Regions from separate parts of the Homo sapiens genome. Here region 2 is linked to region 1. Evidence: fine-mapped expression QTL. A gene starts in region 1. The other region holds a variant in brackets. All regions are shown on one strand. Distances are from middle to middle. Region 1 holds the start of SLC1A3-AS1 (SLC1A3 antisense RNA 1). Region 2 overlaps SLC1A3 (solute carrier family 1 member 3).

Region 1 (8,336 bases):
GTGAAAAGAAATGAAGAAGAAATATTCAAGAAATCACAATCCAAAAAGTTCACTGATGGACTATGAGAAGGAAATTGACCCAAAAATAGACTATGACAGTAAGTCACTGTAAACACATCATGCCTTCCAGCTATTTTCCACATCTGTGTTTGGCTCTCAGAAACTTCCCAGCAGGTACCCCATTTTGGTTCCAAAACCACGGTTATCCAATTTTACTCTGGAAGCAAGGAAGAGTTAACCTAATTTTCTAATTTCCATTGAGAATGTAGGAGAAATTTGGCTTCGTATAAAAGCTGTATGTTGTATAAATAATAATAACTCCTTATGTTTGCAAAGTAATTTATGGTTTCAAACATCATTTAAGGACAGTGTCTTATTTAAACTTTTCATTGTTGAAGATACCAAAATTATAATTTGGTATCTACTAAGGTAAACAGCAAGCCAAGATTTGATTACTTCCCCCAAGTAATTTCTGTCAAACACACAGAGGTCTTAAAAACCAAATCAGAAGAAATTCTTCAGCGAGGGCGTGAGAAACATGCAAATGCTGACTCACAGACAGTTTCGTGAGATACTTCTAATCTTCACATATATAGTTGACAGCAAAAAAAAAAAAAAAAAATCATGATTTGCCAAAATGAAAATTAGCTTCTCTGAGTCACTGTGTTTGAGTGTATAAATTTTGTTAATAAAAGTACCTGCTATGGATTTGGTTCTAGGAGACATATCATGTCTTAAATCACTTCCTGAATTTATGCAAATCCGCCTGCCAAAGAAAGGTTCACTCTCAGACATAATGCTTTTGACCACAAATAAAGTCTCTGCCATCTGTTTTCACACTAGGAAAATGCTATTTGGATTCAGTGATGAAATAAAAAATCCTATTCACATAAATCCAGGTCTTGTTCTCTTACCCTGGGATACCTCCTGCTAAAATTACAAGAAAAGGGACTTTGTTAATTAAAGTGATGAAGTATGAACATATGTTGTTCAAGAATAGCAATACCTCCACCTGCATCTCCAAATTATTAATATTCATATAGCCCTTGGTTTTTATTTGTTTATCGGAAATAAGAGCTCTTCATAACCAGGGCTTCAGATATCATCATTTTATCGGCACCAAAATACCTGAGGGAGGAGGTGTCTTTATTTTTATAGCTCCTTTTAGCTTTGTGCACCAAATACTTCAAGGATATTTATCACTGCTGAGTATCTTTTTGAAATAAGAAAACATAAGCAGATTAGGACACTAAAGAACTAGAGAAGGGAATTTAAGTTTGGGTAGACAAAAGAAATATTATCATGGTTGAGAAAGGTGGATTCTGGGTCCCTAAATCTCACCCCATTGATGACCTCTGCTCCAGGCACAGAGGAGGACATGACTTAAGGGAAAATGCATGGTCAGCACAGGCTGGAGTTTCAGTCCCAAACTTGTAGCCCCACCCTGGGGAGCTTGGGAGGCCCCCTTTTCCTCTGAGCACCAGAGCTAGAGTGAAGGCAGGTGGAATATCCTGTTACCTGGCTAATTACTCCCAGGCCCCACCATGTTCCTGATGGGCTCATCTTGCTATTTTCTCTCCAGAAGAGGAAGTATGAGGTTGTGTGAAAATGTGAGCATGTGTGTCCCCTAAGATACCTTTCCACGCTTCTTTCCCCTTGCCCCAGCCAAAAGGTCATCCAAGGAAGTTGGGGGATAATCAGGCCCAGAGGTGCCCTGGACCAGACGTCCCATGATCTAGCATACGCAAAGGAAGACGCTAAGAAAGTACACATGGAGAAGACGAGGGATACAGGGTGTTTCTTTCCAATCTCTCTGCTTCTTCCAGCAAAAGCCCCACCCTCTAGCCCTCAAGCCTGCTGGCCTCATGGAGTGTAACTAATCCACAGCAGCATCCCTCCTTCTGGGGACACAGTGTTGGGTAAGGAAGTGTAGGGGAGCCAGAGTCTTTGAAACCTTATCAGCCTAAAATCTCAGGGTTACACACAAGTCAGAGGCACTTTCTGTCACCCCTCCTTCTGACCCTGGTCCCACCATTCTCTCAGGTGGAACGCTCCCACCATGCTCTCCCCCTCTATGTCCCACATTAGTCCAAATGTTTCCTTCACGTCATCTCTCATGTCTATAGCTTTCCACATTCGCAGATTCCACCCTAATTCACATACCAAGATTATTACCAGAGACTCTGTTACTGGATTCCTTGACTTTCCCATCAATTATTCTATCTCTCTCCTTCCAAATGACTATCCCTAAGTATCATTGTCTTTGTGCCAAGCTTAGGTACCAACCTTCTGTAGTTCTCATAACCTACAGATTATGATGCAAGGAACTATTAATAGCACAGATTCTGGAGCCAGTCTCCTGGAGCTCCAATCCTGGTTCTGCCACTTATTAACTCTGTTACTTTAGGCAAGTTACTTAACCTCTCTGTGCTTCAGCGTCCACCTCCTAAAATAAGATAAGATAGTAAATACCCCATAGGATTGATCCGAGGATTAAACAAGTTAATACAGAAGTGTCTAAGCAACCAGGAACTGGTAGCTATTATCACTCTTGTTACCGAATGTGGTCCCAACTTCTCAGCCCGGCATCTATTGGTGCATACAGTCAGTACTCTGAAACTACACTCTTGAAATTGTAGATGCTATCCTAGGGGTCGCTAGTAGCTTCTAAAACAAATTAGAAGCCCACTTAAGGTGATAGTCATGGTGGCCAATGAGTCATTCTCTGCTCTCACAGAGTAAAGATTTAATTTGAACTAAGAACCTTAGAAGAAATACAGAAAGCGGGCGAGGAGAGGTGGTTTTTCCCCTCTGCTGTTCCTGGGGACACATGTGATGCTCTGAGAAGGCAGAAGGGAAGATTCGAGCTGATTATAATCTAATGAGGCTGCCAAATCAGTTTCACTTTCCAATACCACATAAGGACTGGTGAGTCTCATGGGCCCTGAGCCAGGATTATTTTAACTGGTAGCATTAGCTGGGTCAGACCGATCAGCCTCTATGGGGAATACTTTGGGAACTGTCATCTTCCAAGCCAGCGCAAGAACAGCCTCTGCCACTGAACTGATGGTGATACACACGGTATTTGGAGGGCAAATCTGATTCACATGCAGTAGCAGGAGATGGAAGAGTGGTTAAAATGAAAGGGAGAGGAGAAGAAGAGCAAGGGACGAGCATAATACAGGGAAAGAAGAATAATACAGGTAGAATAGGAATTACATAGAAGGGAGAAGATCATTTTTTAAAAAAAATAAGGGCCAGGCATGGCAGCCTATAATGGTAGGCAGCACTTTGGGAGGCCATGGCTGGAGGACAGCTTGAGGTCAGGAGTTTGAAATCAGCCTGGGCAACATAGCAAGACCCCCATCTTGACAAAAAATACAAAAGTTAGCCAGATGTGGTGGAACACACCTGTAGTCTCAGCTACTCAGGAGGCCGAGGCAGGAGGATCACTTGAGTCCAAGGGTTTGAGGCTGCAGTGAGCTATGATCATGCCACTGCACTCCAACCTGGGTGACAGAGACCTTGTCTCTAAAAAGTAAAGAAATGAAATAGAAAATAAAAACGAATGGTAGAAATAAAAGGAACTGAGTAGTAGGGGGCAGAGGCATGTCTAGGGGAGAGAACTAGAACTGCCAAGGGATTTGAGTGCCTGATGGATTCTGAAGACTGAAATATACATGACCCCAAAAAGCAATGTCATTTGTAAATATTTGTTAATGAGTTTAGTGAAGTGCTACATGGAGGAATGATCTAGCCAATGAGAACAATGTGCACCAGCCAGTTGGATTCTTGAAGCTGCAGAGACTTCATCTTCAGCCACAGCAGGTGGCTGAGGGCTAGAGTTACTTGGGACTTTCCCCAATGCTCTAGTTCCTTCTATCTCTTGGAAACAAGTCTGGCTCAATATGTTCAGCAGCCCCATTGATGTTGCCCAGAGGAAGTGTGGATCAGGGCTCGCTGACCCCAAGGTTAGCAGCAGAAGAGCAGGGCCTCTGCCTCCCCAGCCAGGAAGCCCACAGTCTTGGCCACATGAATGAAGGAGGTCTTGGCAGCATCTGACACACCTCGGGGTAATGATTTAGCCACCCCAAATTACCGTGTCTCCACAAAATAGTCACTTGGGGCCACACTACATTGTGGAGAGATAATGAAAGAGCTTCTATTTTTGAGCTATCTTTTCCTCATATGCGAATAATTTCACACACAAAAAAATGAGAAAACCACTTCTCTCTGTCACCTACAGAATCAGGAACAGGGATCAGATTATCTTTTAGATACCCGCCCCAAAAAGAAATAAAAATCAAGAAAACATGGGTAAATACCATGGTGGACATTTAAATGAAGCTGAGAAAGAAAGCTTTCTCTATTTAGAGAAGAATTCAAAATGGATGGCAGGAGATTTGTTGAAAATAAGGAAGAGGGAGGGAAAGGTTAGTAAATAATAGGTCAAATCTTCAGCCTAGAGGGCACTACTAAGTTTTCTTTTGTTCCCCCTTAGGTTTCCTGGTGTAGCAGTGCAGTTGCAACGTAGTTTTGTTTTTTGGGTTTCTTTAAACCTAGAGTGGTAAGAGGGACTTGGTGGCGATGGACTGCCATGGGTCGGTTCCTTAGAGGGCTCTTGAGTTTTTCCCACCTGTCTCCAACTCCAGGGCCACCACTCTAATAAAGCCACTGCCATCTCTGACCAGCTCCCCTGCTGTGGCTTTCACTCTTGCTCTCTTTACAGCCCATTCCACACAGCAGCAGCCAGCATGGCACTTCCCGTTCTGGGCCCCTCCCACTGACTGCACCCTGTGCTTGTCCTTCATAGTGTGTAAAGATCTGTATGTGGGGTGATTTGACTAACGGTTCTCTCCCCTTAAGTATAAGTAAACCTATGAGGGCAAGGACTGCTTACCTTAGCATCCTTGGTTCCTGGTAGGATGCCCATCCCATAACAGGCTGGAGCTCCTGGGTGTGTGGGAGGGAGTAGGAAGGAAGCAACAGCTGCCAATCAAAGGCCCATTTGGGCATGTGACCCTTAGCTAGCCAATCAGAATCCTTTCCAGGGTTGTAGCAGTTGAAGCTGTGAGCAGCTCAGTTGGTTGGGTTGTCTGTCTTGTCTTGGCTTGGATTCTCCCAGAAGGAGATCCTGAGTCAATGATTCGGGTGCAAGTAGATTTCTTCTGGGAGCCTTTCTTTAATAAAGCACTTGCACCTGAGTCATTGACTCAGGATCTATTTCAGGATCTCCTTCTTGAGGGAGAGGGCGAAACAGGATCCAGAAGAAGCAAAGCAATGGAGCAGGCATGGCATCAGGAAGAGGACAGGGAGGCTGCCGTAAGCCCAGCAGGCTCCCTTTCAGGCTGTTAAGGAGGGGGATGAGTACGAACATGAAGGTGGCCCAAGTAGCTCTAAGGTCCCTTCTCTCATCTCCTGTCCTTACCGGGGGCCGTAGGCTCTAGATAAAACGCTGCCCCACCACCCGCCAGGGCTTTTGTTTTGGCTCACCTTTCATCCGCCTTCTCAGACTCTGTCTGCCTTGGCTTCCCTCAGCTGAACCCAGGGAATTTGCATTTTGCTATTTTCCATCTGCACTGGGTAGCCTGGCTCCAGATGTTTGGGGCAGCAAATGCAGAAATTCCAGGCAAACGGATCTGATCATTCTCTGCTTGGCTCCACTCGCTGCATCCCAAGCACCAGATGCCTCACTGGTGTCTGCCTACCTTCCTGGGAGGCAGATCCACCGCTCATAAGATAGAGCCCAACGACAAGACCCTGTACTTATGGAGGCCTTTTATTTAACAACTCATTTCATTGAAGGAAAAATCTAGAATCTACTAAGACCTCCTGATATTTTTTAATTAACTAGAAATTGTGGATGTATCCCTCAATATTTTCATCTAAAGTGGTTGAAATGATAATGGAGGGGAAACTGTGTTTTAAAAGCGTGTTACTCCATTTCTTTCATTCACCTCCATCAATGATAATATGAGTTATCACTCTTAATATTAACCACGTGGCAGGCTTCATGCATTCTCACATACATTTCACCCTAAGGCCTGGAGAAGATAATTTCACCAAAGTCACACAGGTAGTACATGGAAAGGTGTAAATTTGAACCTGGATCTTACTGCAAACCCATACTCTTAACTGCTTCATTCAACTTTTGCCAGCAATCATTTGTCATAGACTAAATGCCAGAACCTAAGCCCAAGATTTTGCAGTATACAGAGGAGAAACTGGATGTCTTTTGAAATGCTTCAGAATGGTTTCTATAGTACATATCTGAGCAGCACTCCATGACCAAAGGATGCCAAATCCTTTGCCCCTTGTATTACACTTCATTCATTAGTTCATTCATTCATTCAACAAATGCTTATAAAGCACTCCTGTAAGGCATTATTCTAGGCACTGAGTGTTTGTTATTGAACAAAAAGGACAAAAAATACCTCACTATTCTCAGAGTTTACATTCAGGGATGCAAGAAGGAGCGTGAAACAGGAGATAGGCAATAAACATTAAAAAATTAAGAAAATTTTGTAATATGTTAAGAGGTGATCACTATGGAGAGAAAAAGCAAAGTAAGTGAAATCAGAAGTGCAATTTAAATTAGGGTGGTCAAGTCAGGACTCCCTACGAAGTTGACTTTTGAGCAGAGTGCAGGAGGTGAGGGAGTGAGGCATGTGGCTATCTTGAGGAAGAGTGGTCCAAGCAGAGAGAACAGCCAGTGCAAAGGCCCTGAGGCCCATCCAAGGAACAGTGATAAGACTGGTGTGGCTAGAAGTGAGGGTAATAAGAGACAATGACACAGAAGTAACAGTAGCCAAAAGGCCAGAAATAAGAGGCACTATTTTTATGTCTTGGTCTCTTGAAGGATCAGTAATGTGGTGGTTTCCCCAACACCTGCTAAGCCCTCAAGGTCTTTATATATGCACCATTTTCAGGATTCCAAATGAAAAGAACAGTATGGTCCCGATGGTACCAACGGAGTAGCTTCAGCTGCTCATAGAGCTATTCCTATCCCATTCACCCCACTCCAACACCCACACTCCTCAATTCAGTCTTTCAAGAAGCTGGGGTGACCAGAAACCAGAAGAGGCAAAATTTCCCACCCGTCAGGCCATCTGCAGCTGCCACCTCTGCATGCCTTTCTTCCCCACAGAGCCTGAGACCCTCATTCCTTCCCTGAGAAAGTGCCCTCCAGAGTCTACTTACCCTCCTAAGAACAGCGTATCAGTGAGTGAAAAAATTGGTTTCGCAAAATTTTTTTACAAAGTACTTTATCCAAGTAAGGGAGGCTGAATTTCCACTGAGAGCTAACGTCACTAGTCAGAACAGTAGCAAAATGTACCAAATCTTAGGGACAGGCTAGCACATAATGAGCAAATGAGTAAGAAATCAGGGGCCTTGGCCGGGGGCGGTGGCTCACACCTGTAATCCCAGCACTTTGGGAGGATGAGGCGGGCGGATCACGAGGTCAGGAGATCGAGACCATTCTGGCTAACACGGTGAAACCCCGTCTCTATTAAAAATACCAAAAAAAAATTAGCCGGGAGTGATGGAGGGCACCTGTAGTCCCAGCTATTCGGAGAGGCTGAGGCAGGAGAATGGCGTGAACCCGCGAGGCGGAGCTTGCAGTGAGCCGAAATCGCGCCACTGCAATCCAGCCTGGGCGACAGAGTGAGACTCTGTCTCAAAAAAAAAAAAAGTCAGGGGCCAAGGGCAATACCTAGTGAGGCGCAAGTTTGGGTTGGGTCTAGTGGTATGAGGGCAGTCTCCTTGGGAATCTGAACTTGTGCCAGAGGACGGGCTCCTGTTGTTTAAGGGCTCTGTACCAGGCTGGACAGATGTGGCTGTATGCAAATCTCACTGCCGTAAGTACAGGCCACCAGTGCCAACGTAGGGGGAAAGCAGAGCTTTGTTTCCCATGGCTTTGTAGAGTGATATTGCCACACGTCAGTGAAGAATCCTTATTCACACAAACACATTAGCCCCACTGCGACTCTCACTTGAGGGAACGTAACACAGCCCATCTCATCGTTTCTGTTTGAGATTCAAGCTGAACGTGAACGTGACCCAGCATTTGCAGTCGTCCACAGCAAGAAGTCAAGGTCTTTAACCGTGAGGTCAGAGACTCGAGGTTGAATCCCAGTTCTGCCACGGAGCAGCTGGATGGCAAGTTACCTTAAATTCTCAGAGTCCCCTTCTTGTAGAAAAATGTGGCTAAAATCATACCTCGAAGGATTGTCATGAAGATGAAACAGGCTGGCCCATAGCACCTACTCAGATAAGCCCTTTTGGAAGAACATCATTCAGAATAATCTGTGGGCTGCAGAATTAGATGGCACATT
Region 2 (8,336 bases), 38 kb before region 1:
CCTGGGGGTTCTGGGAACCTCAGGCCCAAAGTAGTTATAATGGGACTTAGGAGATCATTATCTCAGCTCACCTGTAACCTATACTTTGGCATATTGATTGAAAGGCTCTGGGTTATTAAAAAAAAAAGGTGACAGAGTTAAAAATAACAGTAACAGTGACAAGCAAGATAGAAATATATTTCTCTTTCATGCAGCACAGCTCTGCTCCACAAAGCCTTCAAGGCTGATTGATAGGTGCTCTGTGGTATAAGAGACTAAGTCTCTAGGGTATTATCATTATCCAGGTGGTCCGGGATGACTCACCACCCCCAGATTTTAGTCAGTCGGAAGTGGGGAGATGGTATACCCTGCAAGTTGCTCAGTACCTCCATGCATGTCTGACTGGCCAGAACTTAATCTAAGCTTCAAGGGAGGTTGGGAAGTGTAGTCTTCATTCTGGGGAGCCATATACCAGCTAAAAGTCCCAGTATCTTAGAAGGGGACCAGTATGGGGACCATGAATACTTTCTGTGACAGACTTAATACTTTATTAATACCACTTATAACCAGATAATACTTTACTATTTATAAAACATTTGCTTTGCAAGCCAGGTCTACACTGCCTTCATAAAAAGTATTTCTAATACTATAAAACTTTGTTCATAAATCATTTTGCTTTTGAATTAACTAAGCAAACCAAACTAAGAAACCAAATTTGATTCTTTTGACAACATTAATCATGAATGTTCAGTAACTTTACAACCCTCCACTTGGATAGGGGAATTACTAGAAACAAATTATTATTGTAACTCTACAGCATTTTAGACTTTGCCTTACAAAATACTTTCAGGGATGTTTAAAAGTGTATAGCTGCCAGTTTATTTAAAAACGACTAGAATAATAGGTCCAACTTCACAAGGGTCATTGTACGAGGACCAAATTAGATAAACCATGCTTAGTATATCAGAAGACACATAGTAAGCACATGATAAATATTAGTTAGCATGATGATTAGTTCAATTTTTTTTTTTTTAATCTCATTTACGGGCCAGGCATGATGGCTCATGCCGGTAATCCCAGCACTTTGGGAGGCCAAGGTGGGTGGATCACTTGAGGTCAAGAGTTCGAGACTAACCTGGCTAACATGGTGAAATCCTGCTCTACTAAAAACACGAATATTAGTCGAGTGTGGGGGCATGAAGCTGTATTCCCAGCTACTCAGGGGACTGAGGCACGAGAATCACTTGAACCCAGGAGGAAGAGGTTTCAGTGAGCCTAGTTTGCACCACTGCACTCCAGCCTGGGCAACAGAGTGAGATACTGTTTCAAAAAAAAAAAAAATCTCATTTACGTTTTTTCTGAAGCGCGTCCTCTTGTGTTACATGGCAAGTCAGGCATCGGCACCGTGCGTATTTTGCAGCGTATATGCTCTACGTGGGGAGCTTTGTAAAAGTGTTTTCTGTTCTGGTACTTCTGTTAACAGCATCACAGCCACAGCTGCCAGTATTGGGGCAGCTGGAATTCCTCAGGCGGGCCTGGTCACTATGGTCATTGTGCTGACATCTGTCGGCCTGCCCACTGACGACATCACGCTCATCATCGCGGTGGACTGGTTCCTGTGAGTATGCTTGGCCTGCATTCCAGCTCACTGTCACAGGGTCCCCCTCTGTCACTCTAGGGCACCAGGCAGCCTGGCACATCTACAGAAAGAACTCTGAGGAGAGGGGCCTCTCGGCCCATAGTTAAATTGTCCTTATTGTCTGACCCCTGGTCCTTATCTGGAGACCGAGCCCCAGATGCCATGTGCACTCACTCCCCTGTCAGCCTAAGGGGCACATCTGGCTGCCACACATCTCACTCCATAAAGCCATTCAGGAATTGGGAAACCCGCTGTCTGCAAAGGCAACATAAATCAGCAAGGCTGTTTCTGAGTTGCACAACATGACACCACAGCAGCTGGAACAAAGCTGCAGGCCCCACATGCCAGCTTAGGCCCTGCCTCTGTGTGCTTCCCATTCCAGTGGGAATGATTTTCCCATCCTAGCCCAATAGGGTGAGGCTGAGCTATGCCGACACTGGGAAGAGAGCTAGTGTCATTAAGTGGAATTGAGTTTCGGATCTAGGGAAAGTTACAAGAAATGTGCCCTCCACATTCTCAAACTCTAACCTCTACAGGCCCATCCCTTCGCCCCCTTCCCTCGCTCTTCCAGCTGGCATTCTCTGTGCCTTTTCTCTTAAAAATTTCCTTCCACTTTTGAAAATCTTTCCCCAGGATGCCCAAAGCAAAGCCTAGAACAGAGTACGTGTTGGAGTTAACACAACATATGTTCACTAGAACTGCAACATGAAAAGAGCTTGACAGTGTGCGTGAAACCCCAGACTGGGCGAGAGGATTCACTCCCCAGTTACTTGGACCTGTGTTTGTGTCCTGACCTTGTGTGAGACCGGGCAGATTACCCAACCACCCTAGTTTCTACCTCTGTAAAATGAGGGTGCCCGTGTCCTCTACCTCCTAGGGGTACTGCAAGATTCAGTGCAATGATGCCTAGAAAGCATGCAGCCTACTGTCTGGCCCACAGTCAGCATCAGTTAACATGAGCACTCTCATATAAAGCTACAGTTCTCCACAGTCTTTGATCTTTACACTTCAAAATTATTGAGAACTGAAACAGCATTTGATCTATATGGGTTGTATCTATTCATATTTATCATATTAGACACACTTATAAATTTCCACTTGTTAATTTATTACATGTTTTATTTAAAGGTGATAATAATTCATAAAATAAAATAATGGAATGAATTTATTATCATCTTTAAACAAAAAGGTTATATATGCTAACATAAATAGCATTTTTTTGCAAAAAACAACCATTTCGACCCCAAAATTTATTTTATTTATTTACTTGTTTTGAGATGGAGTTCCATTCCTGTTGCCCAGGCTAGAGTGCAATGGCACAGTCTTGGCTCACTGCAACCTCCGCCTCCTGGGTTCAAGTGATTCTCCTGCCTCAGCCTCCTGAGTAGCTGGGATTAGAGGCGCCCGCCACCACGCCTGGCTAATTTTTGTATTTTTAGTAGAGACGGGTTTCACCATGTTGGCCAGGCTGGTCTCGAACTCCTGACCTCAGGTGAACCACCTGCCTTGGCCTCCCAAAGTGCTGAGATTACAGGTGTGAGCCACGGTGCCCGGCCTCGACCCCAATATTTAGTGAAAAGAATGGTACTATTTTATGTTTTGCAAGTTTTCTTAATGTCTGGCTTAATACAAGACAGTTGGAGTTTCCTGTTTCTGCAGTTTCACAACTGCTTCAG[T/G]GAGTTGTGACATCACACATCATGTAGTCTTTGCAAAACTCCACTATACATTCATGAGAAAATGAGACTGAGAGGGACAAATGACATCTTAGTATTATTATGAGAATGGCTTAAAGAGAAGGCTCGTTCCCCACTGTTGGGACTCTCACTTCAGTCAAACTAATAACTGAACATTCATCATCTATATGGCCTTATAACCTTTAATAGCTACTATTATGAATATTATGTGTCTATTACGTAATCTTGCAGTTGGTAGATACGGCGAACTGAATGTTAAGAGGTGCTTCGCTGGCCAGTTCCTAACGTAAGTTGAAAACTTGTGATGCTCACGGGAGCCTCGTTTTTCCCTCCTCCCCACCCTGCCTGCAGGGATCGCCTCCGGACCACCACCAACGTACTGGGAGACTCCCTGGGAGCTGGGATTGTGGAGCACTTGTCACGACATGAACTGAAGAACAGAGATGTTGAAATGGGTAACTCAGTGATTGAAGAGAATGAAATGAAGAAACCATATCAACTGATTGCACAGGACAATGAAACTGAGAAACCCATCGACAGTGAAACCAAGATGTAGACTAACATAAAGAAACACTTTCTTGAGCACCAGGTGTTAAAAACCATTATAAAATCTTTCCATCTCATTACAGCTCATTCGCTCCAGCAAGCCCGTCATCTTCCCTTTCCTCCCTTCTGATAAGACTGGAAAATAGTCCTCCAAAACACAAGGGAGGATTTTGGGTGGCCAAAGTGTACAATTTTCATCCCACAATTGAAATTTTTAAATCATTTCATGTTAGTCTTACCGAATAAGGTACCAAGATCACAAATAGTGTTGATCAGATCTTACAAGTTTATGTGGCACACAATCCTATAAATGTGATTTTTTTATATAAGTTAAAGAGACAAATAGTAGGCTAAAAACATTTTAAAATCAACTTTTGAAATTTAAAAATCTTTCAGAATACAATTCAGTTTTAGTTTCAAAATGTTAACAACTTGAATTACAACCGGTTATCAGTTGGACAGTAAGATTTTATCCCTTTCTCTTCTGACTGGTATACCTATTTCATTAGTAGCTAGGTGCACATATACATCTAGCACAGCTGTGAGGACAGACAGAAGGCAAAGTTTCCATGTGGCCTTGAGCAAGTCCCATCTCACCTCTAGGCCTCAGTGTCCTCATCTATAAAATGAGGGACTTCCCTAGAAGTCTTCATGGTCTCTTCCAGCCCAGACATCCTGTGATGTCATGAAAGCACCTGCCCTCTGTTTCCCCTCAGAACACCCTGTACCATCCATGGAGCACGAGGCCTTCAGAAAAGACACTTCAATGGGAGTGAACATTTCTAACTAAGGACAGGATGGCTGTGTGTGGTGGTCACCAGGTCCTGTGAGCAAAGTGCAGGTTATGCAAGTCGCCAGGCAGGAGGCCATTCCAGGAGTGGGATTATTCATCAAACTCTTTGCCCAGTTCATCCCAATGGGGGAAGTATTCCCTTCTTTCCTACTCTGGGAAGAATGTCTCCTGCCACTCCTCAACTGATGATAGACTTCGAAAACAGATGAGAAGACTAGCAGCTAGCAAGGGTGCTTGTGGTCACACTGTGGAACACTAAAGAGCTAGGAAAGAGTTGAGCACAGGCAACATTACAAACAAAGGATTTGAAAACACCAAGAGTACAGGTCTTCTTTAAGGAAGAATAAAAAAGAAGAGGTTCATTTTTCTGGCTTTTTTTTTCACCTGAAACACTTTTTCTCGAGTCCAAAATCATTCCCCCCGTGAAGTCTGCTTACCAAAACATAAGACGACTTATATATTTGAAAGAAGTCAAATGAATGAGCTCTCTAATAGAAGTCCATGAGTTGAGTGGGTATTTCTTATTTGAAAGTGTTTTTCTTTAATCAAAAGTCCTTAGAATGAGGGAAACAAAATATTTATTTGTTTTGGAATCCCACTTATCAAATCATTCAAAACTTTCAGCTGGAGTGGGGTTTGCTTTTGTTTTGTTTGTGTCCATAAGAGAAATGGTAGAAGATGAATCAGTATGAAGACACTGTCAATGAGGTTATGAGAAAAAAACAGCAGGGGCATTAGTTTCAGGCAAGGCAGCTCCCAGGTTTAGAGATTAATTTTTACCCCCTAAGGAATATCCAGTCAAAGACGCTGAGTGGGAGCTGTCAGGCAGTAGCAGCTGTGTTTGAGTTTCTGGCTGAAAATGGTGAAGAATGGACTTAATTATGCTAACAAACTGAAAAATCTAGACATAGATCCTCTGATATACAATTAGAGATATTTTTATATAGACCCCAAGCATTCTGTGCATAAAAGTTAACATTAGGCTGTGGTGCAGTAACCATTTAATGTCGAGGCTCTATTTCGGAAATACACTACAAATGTTAAAGTACGTGGCTGTCCTCTTAAGACACTAGTAGAGCAAAGACTTAATCATATCAACTTAATTCTGTTACACAATATGTGTTTTTTAATATACTAACCATTTCTTATGGAAAGGTCCTGTGGGGAGCCCATCCTCTCGCCAAGCCATCACAGGCTCTGCATACACATGCACTCAGTGTGGACTGGGAAGCATTACTTTGTAGATGTATTTTCAATAAAGAAAAAAATAGTTTTACATTAACATCTTTGCACGTTGTTGTTATTCTTCTCCTCAAAGAAAAATACATTTTCCATTCATGGAAATATTACAATAAGCTCAGGGCAGTCTCTGGAAGGATCCCATGCAGCAAGGTAAAATCTTGGCAGAGCCAGCCACAAGAAAATAAGTAAGGACATGCTCTCCTGCTCAACTCCAAGAACTGGAGCTGGAAACAGGAGGAGGTGAGCGGAGCACTTTGCTGTAGCAGGCCATACTTCCTTGTCCATGTCAGATTCAAATTTCTCAGATGAATTGAATCATTTCCATGTCGGGATTAGAAAAGTGTGATACCACCATGGGCCCTTCCGAAAAAGTAACTTCCTGTCTGACCTCCAAATTAGGTAGATTTATCTCTGTGATTATTACCACCATTTGTGAAAAGAGCTAACTAAGATCTCAAGGGATTTCCAGAAACAGCCATTGTGCTGGTGCTCTATTCATTAAGAACAGCTTACGGATGACTACTTTTCATCATGCTTTTTAGTAAAGAATTCGCAGGCAATATCATGAAATCTCCAGATTGAAGTAGTGTCTGGAGCCTATAATCTGACCCTCTCTACCAGCAGGTGGCAGCCACCTAGAGGAAAGGCTCTTAAGTTGGATCCATGGACCCCTAGGTCATCCACATGAGAGTTCAATAGGTTCATCGCCCTTGAAGTTGTGGGGAAAGTTTTGTGCATTTGCCTTTTTCTGGGGGTAAAATTCTTAATTTCAATCGGTTTCTCTAACAGATCTTACGACTAAAAAAAAAAAAAAATTTACAAATCGCTATGTTTGAACCATACACCCTAACTTTTGTGAAGGCATATGTGGTATTTACATGACCAGTTTGGGAAAAGAAAGGCTGCTCACAAACTGAGGGAACCAAGCCTGGCCACCCTGAGCAGATCAATATTTGCCCCCTGTGAAACGTTCTGGGAAGTGCCGCATAAAATCAATCCACTGCTAGGAAGTGCTCCCTTCTGCCGGGACCATTTTCTTCCCTTCTGCAGCCCACGCTGGGTTTTGGCCACCTCCACAATGCAGACATAAGAAGCAGGTCATCTGCCTGTGGGAGGTCTGTGGAAAGCCCCTTATGGTTAAGGGAAGTGCCTCTCAGCCAGAGTATGACAAAGAGGGTGGAGAAGCAGGCCTTAGATCCCAACATGTGGTAGTCACACATGTGCTCACAAATGGAACTATGAAAAATATGCAGGTTCACAGCTTTTTTTTTTTTTTTTAAGATACAGGGTCTCACTCTGTGATTATGGCTCACTGCAGCCTCGAACTCCTGGGCTCAAGCGATCCTCAGCCTCCCGAGTATCTAGGACCATAGGCTCACACCACCACGCCCAGGCTAATTTTTATTTTTATTTTTTGTAGAGACAGGATCTCGCTATGTTGCTCAGGCTGGTCTCAAACTCCTGGCCTCAAGCCATCCTTCTGCCTCAGCCTCCCAAAGTGCTGGGATTACAGGAGTGAGCCGCTGCACCCAGCCTCTGGCTGACATTTTTTAAAATGTTTCTTATAAGTTATTACATTTAACAAAATATTTAAATCCTACCCTCAGAAGTTAGGAGTCTATGTCCTCCTGTATCCACATTCATCCTGGTACCACCACTGTCCCTTCCCACCCAAGCAAAATTCTCCTTTTCAAGAGAAAAAATCTCACTTTACCTCACTATACCTATAAGTAAAGGCATAGAAAAAAAAGTAAAATCCTTGACTCATCTACACAGTGTTGAAAACAGAAGTGTGAGTTCTGTTAGCTGAACGGGCCTGGAGGAAGCGTGGCGGGAAGGCTGGATCCCCGCCGCAGGGGCTGCGGGGCTGTGGCTGCCTGCGGGCTGGGCAGGGCCGGGCGCACGCCCTCCTTCCGGGTGGCCGCGGGCCCCGACCCCAGGCTGCCGTCAGTCGAGCGGCCTCCGCAGCGGCCGCGCTTCCCCTTCTCCCACCCGGGTGGTCCCAGAACTGGAGCAACAATGGCCGGCTCTGTGTGGCCGCGTCCTGGGGCCAAAGCAGTCGGGACGTGTCACGCCGAGGGAGGGCTCCGAATGAATACGCTGACAATAAGAAGGAAGGGAGAGCGAGGGAGGTGATGGGCAGCGTCCTAGAGGGAAAGCGGGAGATGAGAAATCTACGAGATCCGCGAGGCGGCGTCCGGGGAGCGAGCCTCATAGTGGCCACCAGGGGGAATGCGGAGCTCACCTTGGGCCGCTTCCGCGGGGAGCTCTAAAGGGAGCTGGGGCACTTCCTCTTAGAGATCTCACTTGGGTAACATCGAATTCCAAGTCTGCAGTGCCGAGAGGGAGCAATCTGTGAAAGCCATCAAGTCAGGTTTAAAATTCCTCAGTGCCCCCATGTCACTTTTCCCTCTGTTCACCCTGCTTCTTCAATAGCCTCCCC

Evidence for each region.
Region 2: its variant is fine-mapped to the expression of SLC1A3-AS1 in lymphoblastoid cells after a statin (CAP, PIP 0.95). The same link has a PIP of 0.9 or more in lymphoblastoid cells.

Annotation. Positions count from the first base shown.
Region 1 is chr5:36,720,214-36,728,549 of GRCh38, forward strand. It overlaps SLC1A3-AS1 (SLC1A3 antisense RNA 1), which reads right to left and starts at 4,975. Exons shown (of 2, transcript XR_007058736.1): 1 at 4,901-4,975. RefSeq lists enhancers at 3,553-3,602, 3,613-3,662, 3,703-3,972.
Region 2 is chr5:36,682,402-36,690,737 of GRCh38, forward strand. SLC1A3 (solute carrier family 1 member 3) reads left to right here. Exons shown (of 10, transcript NM_004172.5): 9 at 1,463-1,597; 10 at 3,664-5,933. The coding sequence ends at 3,868. The region is part of intron 1 of SLC1A3-AS1 (SLC1A3 antisense RNA 1); the gene reads right to left. Among named protein-coding and RNA genes, the nearest start is that of SLC1A3-AS1, 39 kb to the right of the region's middle. RefSeq lists an enhancer at 7,009-7,238 and a silencer at 7,694-7,893. The variant T/G (reference allele first, on the strand shown) is at 3,295.